Linked DNA regions of Homo sapiens. The protein of the gene in region 1 interacts with the protein of each later gene in a pairwise test. Each region holds a gene or a part of one and is shown on either strand. Other genes may lie near its edges. The genes, in order: LAPTM5 and DISP1.

Region 1 (11,917 bases):
CTTTCTGCTCCCTGCCTTTTGCCACAGCAAAGTCTCAGGTGTGGGGTGGCGTAGGGGGTTGGATCTGGGCAGTAGGGGTGGAGGAAGGCAGACAGATTTGGGAGGTGGGAGGGAAGCAGAATCCACAGGGCTTGGCGATTGGGAGGAGGTGGAAGTGAGGGTGAGGAGAGAGAGGAGGCTGTGCTGTGGTCTCTGGCTGGGCAGTGGGGAGGCTGGAGGGGCCAACACCCAGAGGGGTCAGTTTGAGATGTATGGAGTGCACGATGGGTGCGGTGTGTGCGTGTGTGTGTGTGTGTGTGTGTGTGTGTGCACGCCATACAGGGGTACTAAGACTCAGTGGCTGATCTGGGCAGGGACTAGCCACAGCTGGGGTCCCCAGAGTAGGGATGGTGGCCCTAGAACAGCAGGGGTGGCCCCCTCATGGCCTGGCCCTTCGGGCTGCTCTGTGCCGGGCACTGGCAGGAAGAGCCTGAGTCACAGTTGGGCTCTTCAGCCTGCAGCTGGCTGAAAATTTATGGATGTCCCTGAGAGGGGTGGTCAGGAGGCCTGGCTGGCTGACGGGAGCTGCCTAGCTGTTTACCCAGTGCCGAGGAATTTGAGGGCAGCAACAGCCCAGTCGCTTTGGAGGGGGTCCAGCCTCTGGGTGCAGCTGCTTGGAGTAACCTGCCTGGTGCCGGGGCCTGGCTGAGAGGGGCCAGGCCTCAGAGAGCATGGATTTGGACACCTCTTTGATGTTATAGACAGGAAAACAGAAGTTGGAGTGGGGAAGTGGCCATTCCAAAGCCCCACAGCAATTCTGTGCTCCAGTCAAGACCAGAAACCAGGCTAGGAAGGCAGCAGGAGGAAGTGATGGAGAGCTGTCACTTGCTGAGATGCTCTTGTTCATGTGTGTCCTTGTTCACCGCCTCCTCTACTAGAATGTTTGCTCCATGAGACCAGGGACCTTGTCTGCCTTGTTCACTGCTATGTCCTGAGCACACAAAACAAGGCTCTTGTTGAAGGGATGAAGTCAGAAGGCCTGGGGAGGTTTTTTTCCCTCACATTACAAGATGTACAGAGAAAGGAGGTTCAGGGCTGGTGCAGAGGCTTCATGATGGCATCAGGGATCCCGGCTCTTCCTCTCTTTCCGCTCTGCATTAGGGTATCGTTTTTGTTCTCATGGTCCCCAAATGGCTTCTGTGCCTCCAGGCATTGCACCTGCATTTACAGAAGGTCGAAGGGAGTTAGGACAATGGGTAGAAGACATGTGCTTATGAAGTCTGTCCCTTTCAAATCAAGAAAGTTGCAGCTTTCCTAGAAGTGACTAAATCGCACACCATGTGTAGTAGTTCTCTACCTTGCTTCTTCTTCTTCTTCTTCTTTTTTAGGTATCTAAAGCCTGGCCCCAGATTTGGTCCTCAGTGGGGCCTATCACTTTTGTTGTTTGCTAGTGGTTGTTGTTTCATTTTTTAAAATAAAAATCCCCTAGCTGGGGGAATGACCTAATGAGGTAACTCCTACTGTGGTGTTGATGGCAGTTGTGCTATTTTGCCACCAACTTCTTAAGGTGCCTGGATCTCTGAGGTTTTTCCTGAGGATGAGGTCAGCAGCAGGGAGGAGGGGGCTCTGGCAGAGGCTGGTGCTTAGGAGGGAATTACCTAGTCCTTGCAGCAGCACACTGGATGCGCTATGACAATCCCCACTCTACAGCTCAGAGTGAGGCAGAGGCTGGTTGGAGACCAGGGCCAGGAGGGAGCCGGGTTTTCCAGCTCCCCATGGATAGTACGGCTGCACCCATGATCTAAAATGCTCCGTCCTGGGGTGTGCCCAGAGCTGTTATTCAGCAGGAGGCTGCTGGCTCGGCTATGCAGACTTTGCAGCCAGTGCTCCTTCTGCCTGCTGGTCCCATCTCCCTGGAGCCTTCAGCCTGCAGTGCCTGTGGCAGCAGCAGACTAGGATATGGTGTCATTGTGCCCCTGGGTGCAGCCAGGGACCCCTGGACTGCCTGGCTGAGGGGAGGCCTCCTTGGAGTGTCTGGCAGACCGTTGGGGTCCCCTGCCTGCCCACTGGACTCAGCAGCTGGTCATTGGAAGGTCTGGTTGTCCCCAGGCCACAGGCCTGTGGGCTGTCCTTGCCAGGCTGACCCTCCAGGCTGACTTCAAGGCCTGGGCCCCTTCCACAGGCAGGGGAGTAGGGGAGGGACCCTGTGGGTTGCACGTGTAGGCCCTGACCCCTGGTGACCGTGCTGGGTTCGGGGCAGGAGACAGGAGAGAATGCTCTGCCGTTTCTCACATTTTTCAGGCCTTTGGCTTTGGCCCTACACATTCCAGCCCCAAACCTCAAAGGCAGAAGTGAGGTGGGGCTTGCAGCCAGAAGGGAATCACAGGCCAGTGGTCTGGCAGGAAGCTGACCTTCAGCCTGGGTGAGCTGCAGGGGGCACCCAGGAGCCCCTCGGGAGAAGACAGCCCTGGAGCTACCTTGGCTGCCACCACTCACATGCCGCCCACGAAGCTGTCCCCAAGGAGGACCTGTGTCCTGGCTCTGCTCCTGACCAGCTGTGTGTCTTGCAGCAGATCACTGGCCCCTTGGGTCTACGGGAGCTGATCAGTGCCTCTCTGCTGCCTTCCTCTGCTGGCTAGGGCTGGGGGAGGCTCAGCTGAGAAAGGGTTTAAAGGACAGGAAGAATCATAGTGACAATCGTGATCAAAATGCTTCCCACTGTGCAGTCCTTACCGTGACCCAGCCCCTTCTAAGTGCTTCATCTAGGTTAATGGAAAGGACACAAGACTCCCAAACTCTTTGTTTAAATACAAAAGCTGGCAGAGTCGTGGGTTTTATTTTTACCTCCAGGCCTATGGGTGAAGAGGGAAGTTCCAGTGATGTTCTTCTGACTTAACAAAGAAAGCTTACAACTAATTCTGCCTTTGAGGAAACAGAGCTGTCTGTTTAAATATTCATATACCATGGCAGCAAATTATTAAGCCAGATAACCAGCCAGAATTACAGACCTTTTCAGGATTAAAGATGACTCTCTAGGATCTGGGAACCATGTCTGAAGTCAGGGGGTCTTAGAAGATTCCTTTGTCAGAAATAACATTGACAAGGGCAGTTTGACAAGCAGATTTGTATCTGCTCTGCCGTGGCTGCGGTGGCATGGAACATTTCCTTGTCCTTATCTTGATGAATTCAGAGGGTCTGAAGTTTTCAAGGGTTCTACCACTCCACAAAGAAGGTATGAAAAGCAACTTGAAGAAGCTCAAAACTTATCATTCGTAACGGAAAACAGCAGAATATAAATAGTGAGCTTATGTGGTGTTGCCACCTGCATGTACAGACAACGAGATGGGCATTATCATTATCCCCGCTTGGCGCAGGAGGAAGCGGAGGCTCAGGGAAGTTCACGACTTGGCTGGGGTCACACAGCAAGGAAGTAAGGGCTGCACTTGTGCAGATGGGGACTGTGGTCTCGGTGGAGTGTGTTGGGCTCCAGCGACGGGGCCCCAGGCTCAGCTGTTGCTTCCACTGAGCAGCTGTATTTGTTCCCTGCGGCCGCTATAATAAAAGACCAGAAACACAGTGACTACAACAGACATTTATTGTCTTACAGTTCTGGAGGCCAGAAGTCAGGAATGCGCCTCGCTGAGCTAAAATGAAAGTGATTCCCTTTCGAGCCTCTAGAGGAGAAGCCATTTCCTTGCCTTTTCCAGTTTCTGGATGCCGCCTGCACTCCTTGGCTCATGGTTCTTCCTCCAACTGCAGAGCCAGGAGTGTGGCATCTTCCACTCCCTCTCTGACTCTGATCTTCCTTCACTTATGGGGACCCATTTGATGACCTCAGGGCCATCCAGATAATGCAGGATAATCTCCCCACCCACCTCAAGATCCTGAATTTCATGGCGCCTGTGAAGTTTCTTTGCCATGTAAGGCCATGTACGCACAGGTTCCAGAGATTAGGGTGGATTTTTTTTGGGGGGTGAGAGGCACTATTCTGCCTATCACAGTGGCTTTGGCCAAAGGGTCTGACCTTTGGGATAATAGCCGTCCTCTCCACAGGGGGTTTGTTGGGAATGACAATAAAGTGATTCAGGCTTGTACTCCACAGGGAGTGACTGAGGTGCCTGCCAAGGGGCCAGTGTGTGCTGGAGCCTGGTGACCCGGTGAGAGACAAATGACTGCATCAGAACTCCTGCTTCTGCGAGGGAGGTAGTGCCCGAGGGGACTCAGAATCAGACAGATCAGGGGTTCAATCCCAGCTCTGCCTCCTCCTAGCAGCCTGAGTACGGGTGAGATCGGGGAGCAGGGACGGGCTGGAAGGGAGAAAACAAACAGATGCATTCACGTGACCTCATTTCACCTTCACCGCAGCCCTGCCAGGCAAATTTCTGTTCCCCCCAACCGCCCCGCCGTTTTGCAGAGGTGAAAACAACAGCTCAGAGAGATCAAGTGCCTTGTCTGACACCACACAGCTACTAAGTGGGGAGCTGGGATTCCCCATGCCCCAGGATTCCCAAACGGATGCCACCTACTCCACCTCCAGGGCTGTCTGCCACATCTGCGTCCTCCTAGGCTGTGGCTTCCTTAATATGTTCTTTAAATTGACTTACTGCCTTTTTTATTTAAATGCATTTCTTTTAAAATGAGACTTTATATTACTCCTATAAATGGAAAATCACAGGATTCATGGACTAGTTATGTATATTTTTATAATGCACATTAAAATGAATTTATCACCATAAAAAATGAGAAATGTTTACCCATAGACCATGTACAATTATTCCACATGCTGTCAGTGTGTTTCATCCCTCTCTTTGGGAGTTGGCTTTGCACCTGTCCTGGTTTCACCAAATCACAATGTTATGAATGGCTATCATTTATTATGGTAGGAAATCGTCAAATGGCTTCTGTGCACAATCAAATGCAGACTCCCCAGCATGGCCTCAGGGCCCTCCTGGCCCCTGGTTTCCTGATCTCCAGTTCCTCTGGTCTTGCTACTCTTAGACAAAGGAGGACTTCTCTTGGTTTTCTGCCTACCCAGCCAGAAGATCCCAGGCCATGGGCCTGTGGAGCCAAAGTTCTTAACCACTGCACTGTGTCACCTTTCTATGATGTCAGGCCTCAGCAAGGCTTATGAAGGAACAGGAACAGCCTTGAAAATGAAGTTGGGAAGGGATAGGCCAGGCCTCCCAGGAGCCCAAAGCTTGCAGAGTCCCCTTGGTCTCATTGGCACATGGAGAATGGATTGATCAAGTCCACCAATCAAGTTTTGTGGGTCTAACAGAGCAACTCCTGCCAAGTGGGAGGAGCTTAGGGACTTTCTATAACCTCTCCTGGGGCAGAAATGATGGGCTGCAGCAGTGTCCAATCCTAACTCCATGATCTCCTGGGAGGGCAGGGCTTCATGGCAGTTCCTGTCTGCTCTGCACTAGAAGCTTGGCATTGCAAAGGGGCTCAGCTGTGGAATGAAGCAGGGCTTCTTCCAGAAATGTTGCATGTACTTCCTATTCCCTTTCTTTATTGCAATATGGATAATTTATCATCTGAGGAGGGAGTAGAGATTCCAGGGTAGCTTGCCTAAGAGTTGTGGCTTATTAATTCCAACTTTTTGCAAGATCAAGGGGGAAAAGCAATCCCTGATTTTGTGTGAGTATGGGGATTGGGTCTTGAGGCCCTGAAAGTGAGGTTCGGGTCTCACAGATTGCTGTGAAGAGTTATTGACCCACCTAGAAGAGAAGCCTAGCCCAGGGCCTGGCGCACAGTTGATGGGTTTGCTTCCTGGTTATTCTTCCGTCCTTGTCTGGAGCCCTGCACGCCTCTTCGTAGCTTAGGAAGAACAAGCTTCTCCCTGCGGCTCAGGGTGAGGAAGTGGGAGAGAACACCAGCTCCAGGGAGGCTTCTAGCACCAGTCAGCCTCAGTTAAAATCCTTGCACCTTCATTGACTAGCTGTGTGACCTTGCACGAATCATTCCCCCTCTCTGTGCCTCAGTTTCTTCATCTGTAAAATGGGGATCATAATAGTACCTCTCTCAAAGGATTGAGGTGAGGATGAAAGGAGTGAATCCAGGAGCATGCCTGGAAGAGGCAGGAAATGCCTCCTAGACAATAGCTATTTTTGCAGCCAGACAGATCTGGGTTTGAATTCTGCCACCAGTGCTAACTACTGTGTGATTTGGGGCAAGTGCCTTGACCTCTCTGGACAGCTGTTTCCTCATCTGGAAATGGGCTTGGTAACAGTCCTGGCTTCCAAAGTTGGTAGTGTTCTTCTAGTAAGCAAGCTGTGTGAAACGGTGGAACCCTGGCCCTGGTGCAGAGAAGGGCATGATGACCGTGTTAGGGTCTGTCCTCTCTGGAACCCCCTCCTGGGAATGGCAGAGGGCAGTGGGGTGCTCTGAGGCAGGCTGCTGCCCTGTCCCCACTCCCCCTCCCCAGCTGCCCCGCCCCAGCTGTGACGACCTTGTCCCTGCCTGTCTAAGGGGCAGGAAGGAAGTGAGGAGGGCAGCCAGCAGCTTCCCCTTCTCTGCCCTGCTCCAGGCACCAGGCTCTTTCCCCTTCAGTGTCTCAGAGGAGGGGACGGCAGCACCATGGACCCCCGCTTGTCCACTGTCCGCCAGACCTGCTGCTGCTTCAATGTCCGCATCGCAACCACCGCCCTGGCCATCTACCATGTGGTGAGTGTGCGGGCCCCGGGTGTGTGTGCGTGCGTGCTTGTGTGAGTGTGAATGTCTGCGGTGACCCGTCATCTACGGAGCCCCACAAATGAAAGAACTCCTGCTCTCCACCTCTCTGGGGGACCCTGGGCAAATCCCTGTCCTGCTCTGGGCCTCAGTTTCCTTCTCTGTCAAATGGCTGGGGGTACCCTGGGGAGATGCCGCAAGAGTGAGGAGTAAGGGAGCTGGAATCCACTTTCCAGGCAAATGTAACTGACGTTCACTCCGAGGCTGGCTCCGTTTCTGCCTCTGTGAGATGGGGCACAGCAGCAGCCGGAAGGTTATTTGTGTGCAAAGCCAACAGCAGATGTGAAAGTGCTTTGGAAGGCAGGGATCTTGGGAGGAACGTGGGCTGGGATTGTTTGACCGGGATGTGAGGTCGGCCGCAGACACAGCCCCGATTCTTCCCCTGGGGCCTGGAGGGAGCCTGGGCCACTCGAGGGGATGAGAAGTGGGGATCTCCCCTTTGTGCCTCCAGTGGGGAGGCAGGGGCCGTGTCCTCTCAGCTTCCAGCTCAGTCAAACCACGGCCTTCTGCCCACCAAAGAGAACTTGAGACCTGTGCTAATCATTAGGGTAACTTGTCCGGCCCAAGCTCTTGTTGGGCAACTTGTGAAGTCACGGCTGTCACTGGTTCCTCCTTTCCTGGTGACTCACAGTGTGGTCTTGGGCAAGTCACAGTGCCCGGGGGCCAAGGCTGCCCCTCTGCCTGGGGTGGCTGAGGGTCAGTGTCCTTGTACTGTCCTGCCTAGACCCACCCTACTCCCAAACTCCTGGCCACACTCATCTCCCCTAGACCCAAGCGACTTCCTCCTGGGGTGACTCAGGGCCTGTGGTTAACAGTTTTCTCATGAGTCTGGAAGGGCTTCCTCAAAATTAGCCTAGATCCACATGCTGCGGTGGGTTGCTGCAAACTCAGACCTGCCTGCGTCTGCTTCCTGTCACAGGCAGGGCAGGCAGAGCTGTGGCAAGAGCCCAGCCTTCAGGGGGGCGATGCTGTTCAGTGGTTAGCCCACGGCCTCTGGATGCAGACTCCTGCATGCAAATCCTGGCTTCCCTGCTTCCCAGCTCTGCAGCCTTGGGCAATTTACTTAACCTCTCTGAGCCTCAGTTTTCTCATTTAAAAAAATGGGGATGTGAATTATCATACCCATCTGATAGGGTTTGTTGTGAGGCTCAGGGAGTTGATACATACAAAGCATGCAGAACCACGCCTGACGCACAGGTGAGTGCTTTATTATTCGTTGTGCATCAGACATGGCACCTGCTGTCAGCATCCTTGGAGTCAAGTTGTCAGATTCAAGGACTCTAGTTTTGGGAGGAGGAACTCAGAGGTTGTCCTTCCGAGCTCCTGCCAATGCAAGAGCTGAGAGAAGCAAATCACTCTTTGAGTGTCCCTGTACCCTGTATTTTAGGCCTTCAAGCTCTGAGACTATGCACATTCTTAGAAGGACAGTGTGGCATGCAGGGGCGCCTCACAGGTAGCAAGTCCCTGGGTCCTCACCCCAGCCCTGCCACTAACTGGCTGTATGGGCTCAGACAAGCCTCTCTCTGGGCCTCAGTTTCCCTTTTATAAAGTCAGGGGTAAGGTGATGTTGACTGGCTCAGAGGTCTCCAACTCTGATGCCTCTAGGGTCTGGGCAGGCCATGTGAGTGACAGCAGGGGGCAGATGGGGCCTGCGGTGACCCCGGGAGCCCTTGCTTGGCCCACCCTGCAGCTGTTCTCTGTTTTTGCTTGTTGTTGCCACGAAGGATTGTGGGCCCTGGTGGCCGCTCTTCTGATGTTTAGAGAATAGGGAGCAGGCTTTTGTGTCACATCTTCTGATGTTTCAATGCTAGTGATTGATGCATGGTAGAAAAAAATCTCAGTGCAGGCCAAGTCAAATCCATTTGCAGGTTGTGTGGGCCCAGAGGCTGCCCTGCAAACCCGGGACTGTGGGGCTGTTAAGGTTTCTTGTTGATCGTGCCATCCGATGTCCTCACCTGTAAATGGTGGTGTGATATACGGTCCCTGCTCACAGAGCTGAAGAATGTGTGGGCCCTAGCAATCATGGAAGACTTCTTGGAGGTGGTGCCATTGGCAGGAGGGAGAGTTTGGTTGTGGGCAGTATGGAAGGTGAGGAGAAACAGGTGAGCAATGGCGTATGTGTTCGGCTTCTACAGGGACACAATAGAGACAAACCTGGAGTTTGGGGAGGAGGTGATAAAGGTTTTGAGTGACAAGCTAAGAAGTTGGATCTTCTCTGCAGTGCACCATTGATATTTTGGGCTGGATAATTCTTCATCTTGGGGGAGTGAATTGTGCGTTAGAGGAAGTTCAGCAGCATCCATGGTCTCTACCTACTAGATACTAGCAGCACTGCCCATCTCCCTACCCTGCCACTTGTGATAACCAAAAATGTCTCTAGTTATGGGGCCCAATCTCTCCCAGTTGAGAACCAATGCCTATGAGTGATGAGACGTTCTAGAGCAGGAGCAAGCAAAAGAGCAGAGGGGTGTCCTGGAAGCTGTGCGCTCGGCCCAGGTTGTCTCCAGGCTGTGGTCCTCAGTTGACTCCAGTGGGGGGTTATCTTCCTGCACCCCGAAAGAGTCCTCTCTCCTTCCCAGAAAGGGCAGGGCCTGGGGGCTTTCCCATAGGCTAGCTGGCAACAGGTGTGCTGATAGGACCTTGAGCATCTGGATGGAAAAAGAGAAGCTGTGGTCCAGATGTGTCAATAGCCCATGCTGGCTGTCATCTGGACCCAGCCATGGGTGACGACTCTGCACATCATGAGCTATTTGTGGACTTGGCCCCTCTAGGGAGGGTTAAATTGAGACCTTGCCATCCTGAGACAGTGCCACGCTCTATTGAGTCATGAGGGCGTTATTACATGAGGGAAGCCTGGTCCGTAGCTTTGGGCTCGGGCATCTTCCTCAGGATGTCAGTGGGTTTGTGTAGAGGATTCTCTGGGTCACCCAAACTTGCACACTTTGGGAACCCAGCAAACTTTCTTTCTTTTTTTAAAAAATCTATTCTTTTTTTCAAAGTTCAGTAACTTGCCCATCTTTTGTGGTTTGATTTGTTTTGTTTTGTTTTTGTTTTTAAGAGATGGGGTCTTGCTCTGTCACCCAGGCTGGAATGCAGTGGTGCCATCACAGCTCACTGCAGCCTTGAACTCCTGGGTTCAAGAGATCCTCCCACCTCAGCTTCCTGAGTAGCTAGGATCACAGGCGCATGCCACCATGGCCAGCTAATTTTAAATATTTTTTTTTGTAGAGACAGGGTCCCACTATGTTGCCCAGGCTGGTCTCAAACCCTTGGCCTCAAGTGATTCTCCTGCCTTGGCCTCCCAACGCGCTGGGATTACAGGCATGAGCCACCGAGCCCAGTCTAGAGAAATTTCTTAAATTGGGTCTCTTGGGTCCTGGCTTTTTGTCAACCTGAAGCACGTTCTAAGTCGATGGTAGAAAGTGGACACCCCCAGAAGACACTTTTGCCCAGAAATCTCTTTCTTCCTGACCCCTCTTCCCCAGAGTGCCCGGAATTCCACTGTCAGAAATGCATTGTCTGGGTTAAAAAACTTAACACCTGCTATGATTTCAACAGTGTCAAAACAGGATACGTCAAAACTGGGCGAGGAGGAAATGTATTTGGGTTCTAGGATAGTGAAAGCTCTATTTTTTCTACTTTTCTGTATTTTCCATATTTGGTACAATGAGCACGTACTTAGAACGGTTTTAGATTTACGAAAATATTGCAAACACAGTACAGATAGTTCTTGCGTCCCCCATGCCTAGTTCCTCTATTGCTAACGTCTCAACGTTAGTGTGGTGCGTTTGTTGCAATGGGTGAATGAATATTCGTGGGCTGTTATTAAAGTCAGTGCTTCACCCCTATTTCCCCAGCTTTCCTCTTACATCCTTTTTCTGTTCCAAGATTGCATCCAGGATGCCGCGTTACATTTAGTCTTCACACTTCCTTAGGTTCCTCTTGGTATGATGGTTTCTCAGATTTTTCTTGTTTTTGATAATCTTGACAGTTCGAGGAGTATTTGTCAGGCATTTTGTCAAATGTTCTTCAACTGGGGTCTCTGGTGGTTTTCTCATGATTAGTCTGGGAATGTGCTTTTGGGAGGAAGACCACAGAGATGATGTGCCAGTCTCAGAACATCGTACTAAGAAAAGGTTCTGCCAACTTGACTTACCACTGTTGCTGGTGACTTTGAGCCCCCGGCTGAGGTTACTCCTTTGTAAAGTTACTCTTTTTTTCTCCTTTCCATGCTGTATGTTTTAGAAGGAAGTCACTATGCTGCTCCAAGCAACTCAAGTTTGATGAATGGGGAGTTCCGCCCCACCTCCTTGAGGGCAGAGTAGCTACATAAATTACTTGGAATTTCTCAAGGAGATTTGTCTGTACTCCCAGTTTATTATATAAATAAATGATTTATTTATATTACAGGGACCCAGGGATCTTTACTGTATGCTTTGGGTTATAATCCAATGGTACTTTACTTTGTGGCTCAAGTATACTACTTTTAAATTGGAAAAAAAAAAAAGTACGGCCAGGTGCGGTGGCTCATGCCTGTAATCCCAGCATTTTGGGAGGTTGAGGCGGGTGGATCACTTGAGGTCAGGACAAAACCCTGTCTTTACTAAAAATACAAAAAATTAGCTGGGCATGATGGCGGGAGCCTGTAGTCCAAGCTACGCGGGAGGCTGAGGCAGGAGAATTGCTTGAACCTGGGAGGTGGAGGTTGCAGTGAGCCGAGATCGCGCCACTGCGCTCTAGCCTGACAGAGTGAGACTCTTTAAAAAAAAAAAAGGTAAAGCATTCAAATCATAGTATTTGAAGAAGGAGTCTCTATTGCCCTGACCTCGTGCAGGTAAGTTCACCCATGTGCCCAGCCCCAGGCCGGGATACAGCCCTGACTCATTCACGGCCTCTGCCCTTGAGGGGCCAGTCTGCCAAGGAAAAACCGACGAGGACAATGGATGACATTGCTGGCTATGATGGGGGCACAGATGTAGGGCTGGAGGTTGGGATTCTGGAATAGCTTCTTGGAGGAGGTCTGAGTCTTAAGGATGAGTAGGGCTTTGCTTGGGCACCTTGGAAAAGAGGTCACGCTGGGCGGGGGGAGTAGCATGACACAGGCTTGGAGGGGAAGGACCCTGCAGTGCTTCAGAGACCTAGCAGGTTTGTCAAGCTGGGTTAGGAGGGGTGGCCACGAGGTGTGTCGGGGAGGAGGGTGGAGAGG
Region 2 (11,702 bases), about 190 Mb from region 1:
GTAAATTTATGAATAAAGCTTTATTATAAAAGTTTTTATTTATGATCATGAAGTTTTGGCTATTATCTCATGTTGACTGATTTTGGAGAGCAAAATCAGCCTGGTAGAAACTGAAGCATTTCATTTACATAGAGCTGGTAATGGCTTTAGTCAAGGCAGAATCTACTTATGAGACAGCATTTACTGTTGACTATTGAAATGTAATGTTTTTCCTGGTTAAGATCATAACTAACAGATGTTGGTTAAGCAATAATATATACTAATACTTTGATTGAGAGAAATAAACCAGCCAGAACATGCAAGTAACCAGAGTTCAATTTCCTAATGTTTTTTAAGAGAAGAGACAGAAAAGGAAACATGTATTGCTTCCTGGGATCAGTATAAGGTTCTGCCTCATCTCCTACTATCTATTACTATACAGAGTAAGTGATCAAAATAAAGACCCTGAGACTTGGTAAACTCCAGAAACATCAAAGATCCAATCAGGTCATCTAGTGTTCTAATAAGACAGGAAAAAATACATTTAAGAGGGATTTTCAACACCAACAGCAAAAGCTGAAATCAAAAGAGCTTTAATGTTAATATTCACTTAATTAAAAATTATACTATCCACAATTCCTCAATCCTAATCACTATGGCTAATCAATGGCTTACATACTTATATTCATGTCCTCTAGGCTGTGCCTTCCTTCTTCTCTGGCAGCTGCAGAGTAATCAGGCTGACTCCATGTTACAGCAAATTTTGGGTAGTGAATTTGTTGCCAACATTTAGAGAATTAATGGCTCCACATTCAAATCTGGATTCTTGGCCAGGTGCGGTGGCTCATGCCTGTAATCCCAGCACTTTGGGAAGTCAAGGCGGTATGGTCACCTAAGTTCGGGAGTTCGAGAGCAGCCTAACCAACACGGATGGAGAAACCCCGTCTCTACTAAAAATACAAAATTAGCCAGGCATGGTGGTGCATGCCTGTAATCCCAGCTACTCGGGAAGGCTGAAGCAGGAGAATCGCTTGAACCTGGGAGATGGAGGTTGTGGTAAGACAAGATTGCGCCATTGTACTCCAGCCTGGGCAACAAGAGCGAAACTCTGTCTCAAAAAAAAAAAAAATTCTGGGTTTTTGACCTCTGGCAAGTTCTTGCAACATTTGGGCCCTCATTTCTAGAACCCCATCTTTTGTCGCGGCTAAGTAGCAGCCGATTTCTTTCGACAGGGCAGATGTTCCTTAGTGTTCCACAATCACCATCACTTCTCCTGTCACACCTAGCTAGCTTTATTCACTTGGATTATATGCCAGGCCCCTGAGGCATTCAAACTTTGAACCTCTAGACTTTATTTTTTTCACCTCTCTACCTCTACTGCCTAGTGATGAGGTAACACACAGAAGGCTCTTAATATAGTATTGCTTTTTGAATGAATCAGAACTTTAAGCCATTTTCTGATTCACTTTAGAATGAATTGGAACTTTAAATAATTTTTTAATAATTCAACAGATTATTTCAAGGTTCAATGCAAAAATATGTACCTGTACTTGATCTAGAAATAAATAGTACAAGGAATTTTTAAAAAGACTTGAAATGTTGGGCAAGGTCAAGAATTTCATTAGATTTATATCTTCCTTAAAATAAGAAAACTCAATCATTACTTTTTCATTAATTTTAATAATATAATAAACTCAGACTAGTAGTTGACTAAACTAGAGAAGTAAAAGAAAAAGTTAATTAGCCAAAATTTCTTTAGGTTCAACAGCAACAGTGAAGCTGTGTGACTAGCCACACACGGCTATCAGTCTAGACTGTGATCATGTTCAATTTTAAATGCGAGCAAACTGCTGAGTGGTTTGTTCATCTACAATGTCACTCACTTGGAACGTCGCAGAAAAAGCTGTCCTTGTGGAAGTTCCAGTCAACTTCTCTTTTCTCTCTTTCATAATGATCATCTGACCATCTATCATCCCGATGGCTGAAATGGAACGACAATTTGATCTTCAATAAAGTTCTCGTTATTTCAAAGCTGATAAGCATACTGGAAACATTACTTCCTCAAAGCCATGACCTGCTTAGTCCTTGATATTAAGTTGAAAGGATTAGAAGAAGCAACCAACATTAATTTTCTCACTTCTAAAAAAGAAAAAAAAAAAGAAAATCTCACCTTTTCATCCTACTACAACAAAATCTTCAAACACAATGACAAGTTAAGCAAATTCAGTGGCAAAGATTTTGAGCCACACATTTTACATTTAAATTTTTTGTTTAGGCAGTATTTGAAGAGGAATTCATTCAGCAATGTTTTGTCTAAAAGTTATATAAAAATAAATAATTGATTACCTTTTGGCTTGTTCATCTGCATATTTAAAGGGATAATTTGCTAATGTTGCTTTGTATCCTGTATTTTTCACCATATTATTCCATGTGACCAATCTCTGGCCTATTGCTGTTCCTCTTGGTTCAAAACCCTAAGGCAAAATTACAGGTGCTCATTAGTATATTTCATTTCAGGCTAAGTACAGTTACAATAAAAGCTTGGGAAAGCAATGTCAAAGTGATATATAGCTTTCAACAGAAAATATAGCTGTTCCTCACAGCTACTCCAGAGGTGACTGCATTAAAACAAGATGCCTTGACATGATAATCATCACCTATTTGCTGTGACAAAACAGTTTGATTCTTTGGTATGTTACATGTCTAAAGAAAGTTTATCTTTCCAACTCATGCCTAAGCATTTAGTAAATACTTACTTTTATCTTATAAAAATTATGATCAAATTAAATCATGTTACGCACTGTATTTTTACAAAGAGTGTTTCATTATCCTTGATCATATTTTCCTCATTATTCCACTCCAGAGAAACATTTACTTAAAAACAGACTCTGTGATCTGTTAGTAATACTGAAATTCCTTTAACTTCTTTGGGAGAAAACAGAGACAGTGTTAAAGACTTTATGAGAATAATTTTGTAGAAGGCAGATTCTCCAATTTATTGCTTTTTAGCTTAAACATGGGGACCAAGAAGCAAACCTTCCAGATTTTTGAGGGTAAACAAGTTCCTTGACCTTTTAAGAACCTGATAATACAGATAAAGTCATGTCTTTACTTTTCAGAAAGAGAATTGTTGCTTGAGAAGGTTTTTAAAGAAATGGGTTACTAAATAACATAATGCAACATGTATTAAAATACACAATATTTGGAGATGATTTTAGGCTAAAGAAAACATAAAAGTTAGTTACCAGCAATGGATCAGAGAAGTCAGGGAGCTCTGGCACTAATACTCCAACCAAGGCACAGACTACGATGAACATGGTGCACATGCCCAAGACCACCACCGGCCAGTCGGCTATCAGGGCTGCATAACTACAAAACACAAAGAAGTGTCGGCTATCAGAGCTGCATAACTACAGAAACACAAAGAAGGCACAAAGAAGGCCCTTCGCAGAAATATTTTTGGTACCTAAGACAGCAATTTATTAAATCCTCATATTGTAGACTACATACAGGTGTTTATCAATACAATATCTAATGGGATTATAAATATTTGTATGTAATTGTAGTAGAAAGTTACAAGATCATTGTCCCCTCATTTTTGTGATCAAGTAGCACTTTATGCCACAGGCTATTGAGAGTCAGAATAATGTTCATATATGACAAGTAACATTTTATATCTACATCTATGCCTGTAAAGAGATATAAAATACACACTTCATCAGTGGAAAGAAAATAAATTTTAACAGAGGATCCATACTCCAATCAGTGTCTTTCAGAACTTTTGTTTCTCTAGTTATTCCCTTTCTCCACACCTTTACTCTCAGAGTTCTTAAACAGTGAGAGTCTATAAACAGGTTCATACAGTTCAGATCTTAAAAATAACCAAACTAAGGGCTGAGCATGGTGGCTCACACCTGTAATCTCAGCACTTTGGGAGGCTGAGGCGGGTGGATCACAAGGTCAGGAGTTCGAGACCATCCTGACTAACACGGTGAAACCCTGTCTTTACTAAAAATACAAAAAATTAGTTGGGCATGGTGGCACACGCCTGTAGTCCTAGCTACTTGGGAGGCTGAGGCAGGAGAATCACTTGGACCCGGGAGGTGGAGGTTGCAGTGAGCTGAGATCATGCCACTGCACTCCAGCCTGGGCGACAGAGCTAGATTCTGTCTCAAAAAAAAAAAAAACTAAACTAAACACTTCCCATAAACCTGTAACTTTCCTTCTAGCTAAAACTACAGTGAGCATATCCACTAGATATGTGAGTTCCATGAGAGCAGAAATTCTTGTCAGTGGAAGTTGATCAATAACTATCTATTGACTAAATGAACAAACATCTGATGCTTGTACTCTCCAGCTACTACAATCTGGTTTTAGTCTCTTCCCACATGTGCAGAACTGTCTCTATTACCAAATCCTAACACTGGGCCCTTTCTTCCAGATGCGCTTCCCACACCCTCATTTGTTACCTCAAATTGAAAGATCTGTTTCTGTATCCCTTCCATGAGGTCCTGGATCACACGTTATTATTTTGGCACTTCCAAGTCTTGATATGAGCTGAGTACCCAACAGAAGCTGACTAAACTGAACGTTTTCTAAAATTCAAAATGCATCCTGCAAACTTCTGGCTTCTTGAATCTTTATTAGAAGAAAAGCAAGACAAAATATTTAACTTGTGGACCACTACTCTCAAATTCTCAGTAATGTTAGCTCATTTGGCTGCTGCAATGGCTATTTCTGGCTCATTTGAAATAGGATTCTTACTCATATATTTTTGAGTTATTTCTTCAAAATCATGCTAGTAGTTACAAATAATTCTGGTGGCTCTAAATGTCAGTCTGAAAAAAAGCTACTATATGTCTCTAATAATAGACTGCCAATTTTTATAATCTGATGTCTTAACTTTATTGATCTGGCTTTGTGGAGATATTTGCTTCAAATTATAATTCTAGTAAGGATATTAAAATATAGAGCAATTATGCTTTAAGGGAGCATGTGCACAGGCACTTTTCACTGCTGCTCTTTTAAAGTAATCTTAAAAGGCCAGACACAGTGGCTCACGCCTGTAATCCCAACACTTTGGGACGCTGAGGCAGTCAGATCACCTGAGGTCAGGAGTTTGAGACCAGCCTGGCCAACATGGTGAAACTCTGTCTCTACAAAAATGCAAAAATTAACTGGGCATGGTGGCACACGCCTGTAGTCCCAGCTACTTGGGAGGCTGAGGCAGGAGAATTACTTGAACCCAGGAGGCGGAGGTTGCAGTGAGCAGAGATCATATCACTGCACTCCAGCCTGGGTGAGCAACACTCTGTCAAAAAAAAAAAAAAAGAGAAAGAAATAAAGCTATAAAGGAAGGAAGGAAGAAAAAAGAAAGAAAGAGAAGAGAGAGAAAGGAAGAAAAAAGAAAGAGAGAGAGAAAGAGAAATCTTATAAAAATAAATAAATAAATACAAGCTCGTCCTTATTCAGAATACCAGTTGCTCTTGTGCTTTACATAAATTATTATATTGTTCAATTCTCACAACAACCCTTGGAGATGAAACTGCAGCATTGACAAGTTATAGAACTTATTCAATGTCACAAAACTAGGAACCTAGATAGTCTGGTTCTAGTGTCAGGGCTTTTAATCTCTGGGCTGTCATTTCTTTCTTCAGACACAAGAGTAACTAGAAACATTAGGAATAACTACACTTGCCACAAATGTCTGTTTCCCAAAACTTACAATTAAAAATTCCTAGCCCTATTTATAGTTAATTTCTCTATGCAAAATCATATGGGTTCTAAGTTTGAACATTATTCACTAGACTGCAAATTTTAGATTTAAAAACTCATTCAGGAAAAATGACAGAATAACCTTTTAGAATAATTCTGAAAATAATAAAAACATTTAAGTGACAATAAGCTGATTGTGGTTGTTCAAATGTAAACACCAAGTGTCTAGAAGCTTTCACACTTCTAGGACACACCCTGTGCAAAAATATTCTCCTTACTTTATTTCCTCCTCCACAAAATGCAAACTAAGATGAAAGTAACTAGTTTTGAAGCAATAAAGTCCTCTGTCTCAATAGCACATTTGAGACTACTTTCATTGCTTCAGACTTAAAAAGAGTCCTTTACATTTTAGACCATTAAAATATCAGCCCTGTGAAATGAAAATGGCCCCAGGCTTATACAATTATTCATTACACTTTATTTTAAATGGATTCATTTTCTCTCAAATGAATCAGAAGTTATGCATTTTTACCTATTAACATGTTATCAATAGAGGGCAGTAGGCCCCAAATTGCTTAGTATTCATACTGTGGTTTAATTAACCCATATAATAACTTTTAATTTTGTGTTCTTGAAAATCTGCACACACGTATAGCAACGTTAAAAGCCCCATTCAATAATTGCTTTTCTTCCCTTTGAAAACATTTGGTTTTGATTTTACAGCACTGCTACACACCATATACGTGCACTGACTACATATGGAAACTTTATGGCATTAGTGATTTCAGCACATTTCTTCCAAACACGTTTAACCTCACTATATTACAATTCCACTTCCTTACACAGCCGATGTTTCCCACGCTAACCTTTCCTAGAGATAACTGTTCACATTTAAGTAATGGGATCACCATCCTGAGTATATAAAACACCATGGGGGAAAGCCCAATCATTCTAAGTAAATTTTACTCAAACAAGTATTTCTTCTCAACACCACAAAATTGCTGAGGCTAATTCTACTCCTCCTGCTATCTATGCAAATATATAGTATAGCTGTGGGTACCACATGGGAAACAGAGTTGCCTGCGCAATATGAAATCCAGACAATGGTTGTAATATGAAGATAAAAGTCTAATAAAGTAGGAAAATTGGAGAAGTAAAGGAAATTAAAAATAGTCTATAAATCTCACAAATATATATATATATTTGATGATGCTATATATATATATATATATCCATATCCTGTGCATTATTCTCTTTGAAAAGTGAACCACATGTAGAGTAGAAGAATTTTCAAAGGAACCATTCTTTTAACTATCATGTATTCTTCTGCATATCAAATCATATTTGTCTTTCATCCACCTTCTCTAATATTGAAAATCTTTAGACACCACAATATAACTGTAAATGTGGCCCACCTCTGTAACACCTGGCTTACAGCAGGTAGTCATTTTCCAGTGAAAGACCCTTTTCCCGGAGGCCCTACTGCTGTACTAGCTGCTGAGGTTAGGGACCACAACTCTTTACAGGGCACTGCTGTATAAAAGTTCACATCATCTTCTCAATAGGTTAAGTCTCTAATAGGAGACGGATCTGAAGGGCTCATTCTCCTTTTACAGAAGAAGGAACAGAAGTAGCAGAGGTAATGAAATGCGTTCGTGGATGAACCATGGATCTGAGTTAGCAGGCATGCTGCCTGGCGTTCTGGTCCAGGGTGTTACTGCCATGCTGGAGTTTTCACTGGTACTCAGTGGAAGTCCCTCAAACATAGTCAGAGATTTTCAGTCACCTTATTATTGGGTTTACTCTGGAAACAGATCAGAAATAACTGTTAAAACAAATAAACGAAGTATCTTATAGAGCCAGCTTATGCTCAAGTGACATTAAAATGGGGGCCAATTTTAAGTGGGTCATTTATATTACAATAACATTCCCCCATAATAAATTTTCCTCTTAGCTTACAAAGATTTTTTTTCCCTTGCTCTTTGCTGCCTTTCTCAAAACACTCTTCTTTTTTCTCTTCCCTCTGAGCAGAAAGCCGTGTTTCAGATGGTATAATTCAGTGCCCACACCAGAGGCTTCCTTTTCCTCACCGACCACCGGATCTTTAACCCCTTATAGCCTGGCTTTTGCTCTCATGACTTTTCTGAACTGCCCAAGTCAACTAACTATTCTTGGTTTTTACCTTCCTTGACCTGAGCAGAATTTAACACTGTTAGCTACCTCTTTCTTCCTAAAAATCCTTTCCCCGTTGGTGTATTCTTTTCTGTTTCTCTTAATAACTCTTTCTTATTCCTCTTGTCCCTTAAAGATAAGACATTTCAAAATGTTAAGTCATAACTTTTCCAGTGGCATCAACTATCAACTTAGTGAGAAGAGTGATTGAAGTTTGAGAAAATTAAAAAAAAAGAAAAGAATATACAACTCTTTTTCTTGTGAAGTAACAAATTCATCCAACAATTAGCATTAAACAATAAGGAAGCAAGGCATTCTGGGAATACAAAAATGGCAGACTTGGATCTTGCCCTCAGGGAATTTACAGCCTAATACAGAAAATAAGACAGGCACACAAATATCTACAAGACAGGTTAAAAAAAGTGTGTGCTTTTTGTTTTTTTCTTTCCCCCACCCCGAGACGGAGTCTTGCTCTGTCACCCAGGCTAGAGTGCAGTGGCACGATCTTGGCTCACTGCAACCTCCACCTCCCGGGTTCAAGCAATTCTCCCGCCTCAGCCTCCTGAGTAGCTGGGATTCCAGGCACCCGCCACCATGCCCAGCTAATTTTTGTATTTTTAGTAGAGACAGGGTTTCACCATGTTGGCCAGGCTGGTCTCGAACTCCTGACCTCGTGATCTGCCCGCCTCGGCCTCCCACAGTGCTGGGATTATAGGCGTGAGCCACTGTGCCCGGCCAAAAATATGTGTTTTTTAGAGGGGTACAGATGAAATGTTTTGTGAATTCAATAAGGGAAGCAATAAGTTCCAGCCAAGGTGGGAAAGGGGAATCAGGAAAGGCTTTGTTGAAGAAGTTATATTTATATGCACATGTACGTAAAAGAAATTAGAACTCTGTTTTAATAACACCAATTTAATAACAGAGAAAGAAATCTTTTCAAAGTAAAATTTTTAGTCATTTGCAAAAGCCCTATTTATAGAAAAGTAGAAATTTGTTTTCTTAATATGCCGTATTTACTTCCATACCTCTTTCCCTCATTTTTTCTTTCTCTCTTGTTTTTTTGCAAAAATGAAAAGGGAATTGGATAAACAAAATGTAGTATATACATACAATGGAATATTATTCAGCCTTACAAAAAGGAGATTCTAATACATGCTACATGAATGAACCTGGAAGAAATTACACTAAGTGAAATAAGCCAGTTCCAAAGGGACAAATACTGTAGGATTCGACTCATACGAGGTACTTACAGCAGTCAAACCCATAGAGACAGAAAGCAGAATGATGGTTGCTAGGGCCTGGGGGTAGGAGAAAATGGGGAGTTAATGTATAATGGGTACAGAATTTCAGTTTTACAACAGAAAAAAAGTTTTGGAAATGGATGGTGGTGATGGTTAGACAACAATGTGAATGTACATAATGCCAATGAACTGTACTCTTAAAAATAGTTAAAAGGCAACATATATGTTATATATACAACAAATATAAACATGTTATATATACAACATATATAACATATAAACATGTTATAACATTTAAAGTATGTCAACATGTTATATCTATCATATAAACCTGTTATATATAACATATAAACCTATGTTATATATAACATATAAACCTATGTTATATATAACATATATGAGTACGCTCTCTCTCTCTCTCTCTCTCTCTATATATATATATATTTTTTTTTTTTTTTTTTTGAGACAGAGTCTGGCTCTGCCACCCAGGCTTGAGTGTAGTGGTGTATTTCAGCTAAGCACAAACTGCTTCCTAAGCTCAAGAGGTCCTCCGACCACAGCCTTCCAAGTAGCTGGGACTACAGGTACAAACCACAATGCTTGGCTAACTTTTTGTATTTTTTTGTAGACACAGGTGTCCCCATGTTGCCTTGGCTGGTCTTAAACTCCTGACCTCAAGTGATCCGCCTGCCTCATCCTCCCAAAGTGCTGGGATTATAGGCGTGAGCCACTGCGCCTGGCCTATTATGTATATTTTACCACAATTTTAAAAATATATTTTTTTTTAAATAGAAGGAGAGTTTACTAATTAATATTTATGTAGTAATTTCACTTCAAAGACAGGATAACTCCCTTGAGGCAGGCTTCAGTGTTATCAGCATTTGAGCTTCTTTGGCAACTGAATTTCAAAGATCACTTAGAATTTCTTAAGTGTAATGACATTGTATCTGGAATTACAATGTGTAAGGACATCTGATGAGAAAACGCTTTTTTTAGGAACTCTTATCAAGTTAAAATTTTCTCTATTGAAAGATAAGCCTTAGACATTTCCACATAAAAGAATACTTCCATTGGTAACAAGATTTTTAAAAAGAAAGACAACCCCTCTGAAATAAACTGCCATGAATTCGAGTCATGGTAGTTGGCAGAACAGTATCTCTTTCCTCACTAAGTAAGCCAATCCGTTGCAGGAAGGAATGCAAAATAAATAAACAAATATAAATGTTTACGCACAAATATTTTTTTTTTTGAGATGGAGTCTTGCTCTGTCCCCCAGGCTGGAGTACAGTGGCACAATCCTGGCTCACTGCAACTGCCACCTCCCAGGTTCAAGCGATTCTCCTGCCTCAGCCTCCCGAGTAGCTGGAACTAAAGGCACGTGCCTCCACGCCTGGCTAATTTTTGTATTTTTGGTAGAGATGGGGTTTTGCCATGTTGGCCAGGCTGGTCCCGAACTCCCGACCTCAGGTGATCCACCCACTTGGCTTCCCAAAGTGCTGGGATTACAAGCATGAGCCACTGCACCTAGCCCTAGACACAAATAGAATTTAATAGGGTTAGAAATCTACCTTAAGATTAAAACCACTTTTGGAGATATGGAATTCCTCAAGCAGCCAACTCATGGGACATTTCTTTTTCTTTCATAAAAATATGAATGAGGAAAGTGAAAAGAACAGCAAAATACGGAGAAAATACTAGACTGGAAAAAGCATGCAGGTAAGTTTATTATTTAATAAGATGACCCAGATTACTTTACCTTTTTGGCAACTTGAAAGGTCTGGATGGTCTGAAAAAAAAAAAAGCAAAGGAAAAATGATCAAAAACAGAGCATCATAAACATCATAACATAAACAAAGGCTTTACATATGTGTTGAACATTTTACTTGTTATCTCTTACAAAGAATCTTGGAAGTGTTAAAAAAAAAAAGGCAATCTATTTGAGAGATTTTAAACAATGAATGTTGGCTACTTTACATACTAGTAGAGACAGCTCGAGTGGCTAGTCAGGAGGCAGAACCTTCCCAGACTCCGTATCACCCTCTCCTGATGGAATCATACTCACACTGTACAACATTCTTCTCTGAGATCTACAGCTACCAGATTCAGTCTTCTCTCCCCTAACAGGAATCCACATCCCTCAGTCTCCAATCTAAGCTGCTTCCTTACGTAGCAAAGATCCCAACACTTAAAAAAATTGGATATTAATACCTTCTTTTAGGTATTCTATTCCCTCTTCAAGATACCAGCTGCTTCTCCATTTTTCAGTTTCTTAATATCTAACTTCACAATCTACTTCAACAGATACGGGCTTGTATTTCCAATCAGCTCTTTCCCATACTGTTTTATTATTCCCACTCATCCTTTGTACCTTGCCTCCCAGATATAGGATAAGTTTGCTAAAGAAACTCCAAACTAAGTCTCAATCTCCAAACTTTGTATTCCTATCAGATTATTTTTTTCCTATTTACTGGAAAGCATTTAATAAATATTTGTTGAACAAACAAAAGTACACTGGTTATCACAGTGTGGTCTAAAGACAGCTGGGAGTTCCTGAGACCCTTTCATGGGGTTTGTGAGACCTCCCTTTTCCAACTA

Evidence for each region.
Region 2: the proteins of LAPTM5 (region 1) and DISP1 interact in binary tests that used the Homo sapiens proteins (3 or more experiments, as listed by UniProt).

Annotation. Positions count from the first base shown.
Region 1 is NC_000001.11:30,752,387-30,764,303, reverse strand, and holds the start of LAPTM5 (lysosomal-associated transmembrane protein 5), read left to right. Parts: upstream 1-6,529; 5' UTR 6,530-6,558; coding exon 6,559-6,645; intron 6,646-11,917. UniProt on the Homo sapiens protein: May have a special functional role during embryogenesis and in adult hematopoietic cells.
Region 2 is NC_000001.11:222,982,271-222,993,972, reverse strand, and holds part of DISP1 (protein dispatched homolog 1), read right to left. Parts: intron 10,894-11,702; coding exon 10,864-10,893; intron 4,618-10,863; exon of another isoform or gene 4,449-4,617; intron 3,349-4,448; coding exon 3,225-3,348; intron 2,454-3,224; coding exon 2,326-2,453; intron 2,119-2,325; exon of another isoform or gene 2,023-2,118; coding exon of another isoform or gene 1,961-2,022; coding exon 1,863-1,960; intron 1-1,862. UniProt on the Homo sapiens protein: Functions in hedgehog (Hh) signaling. Regulates the release and extracellular accumulation of cholesterol-modified hedgehog proteins and is hence required for effective production of the Hh signal. Synergizes with SCUBE2 to cause an increase in SHH secretion.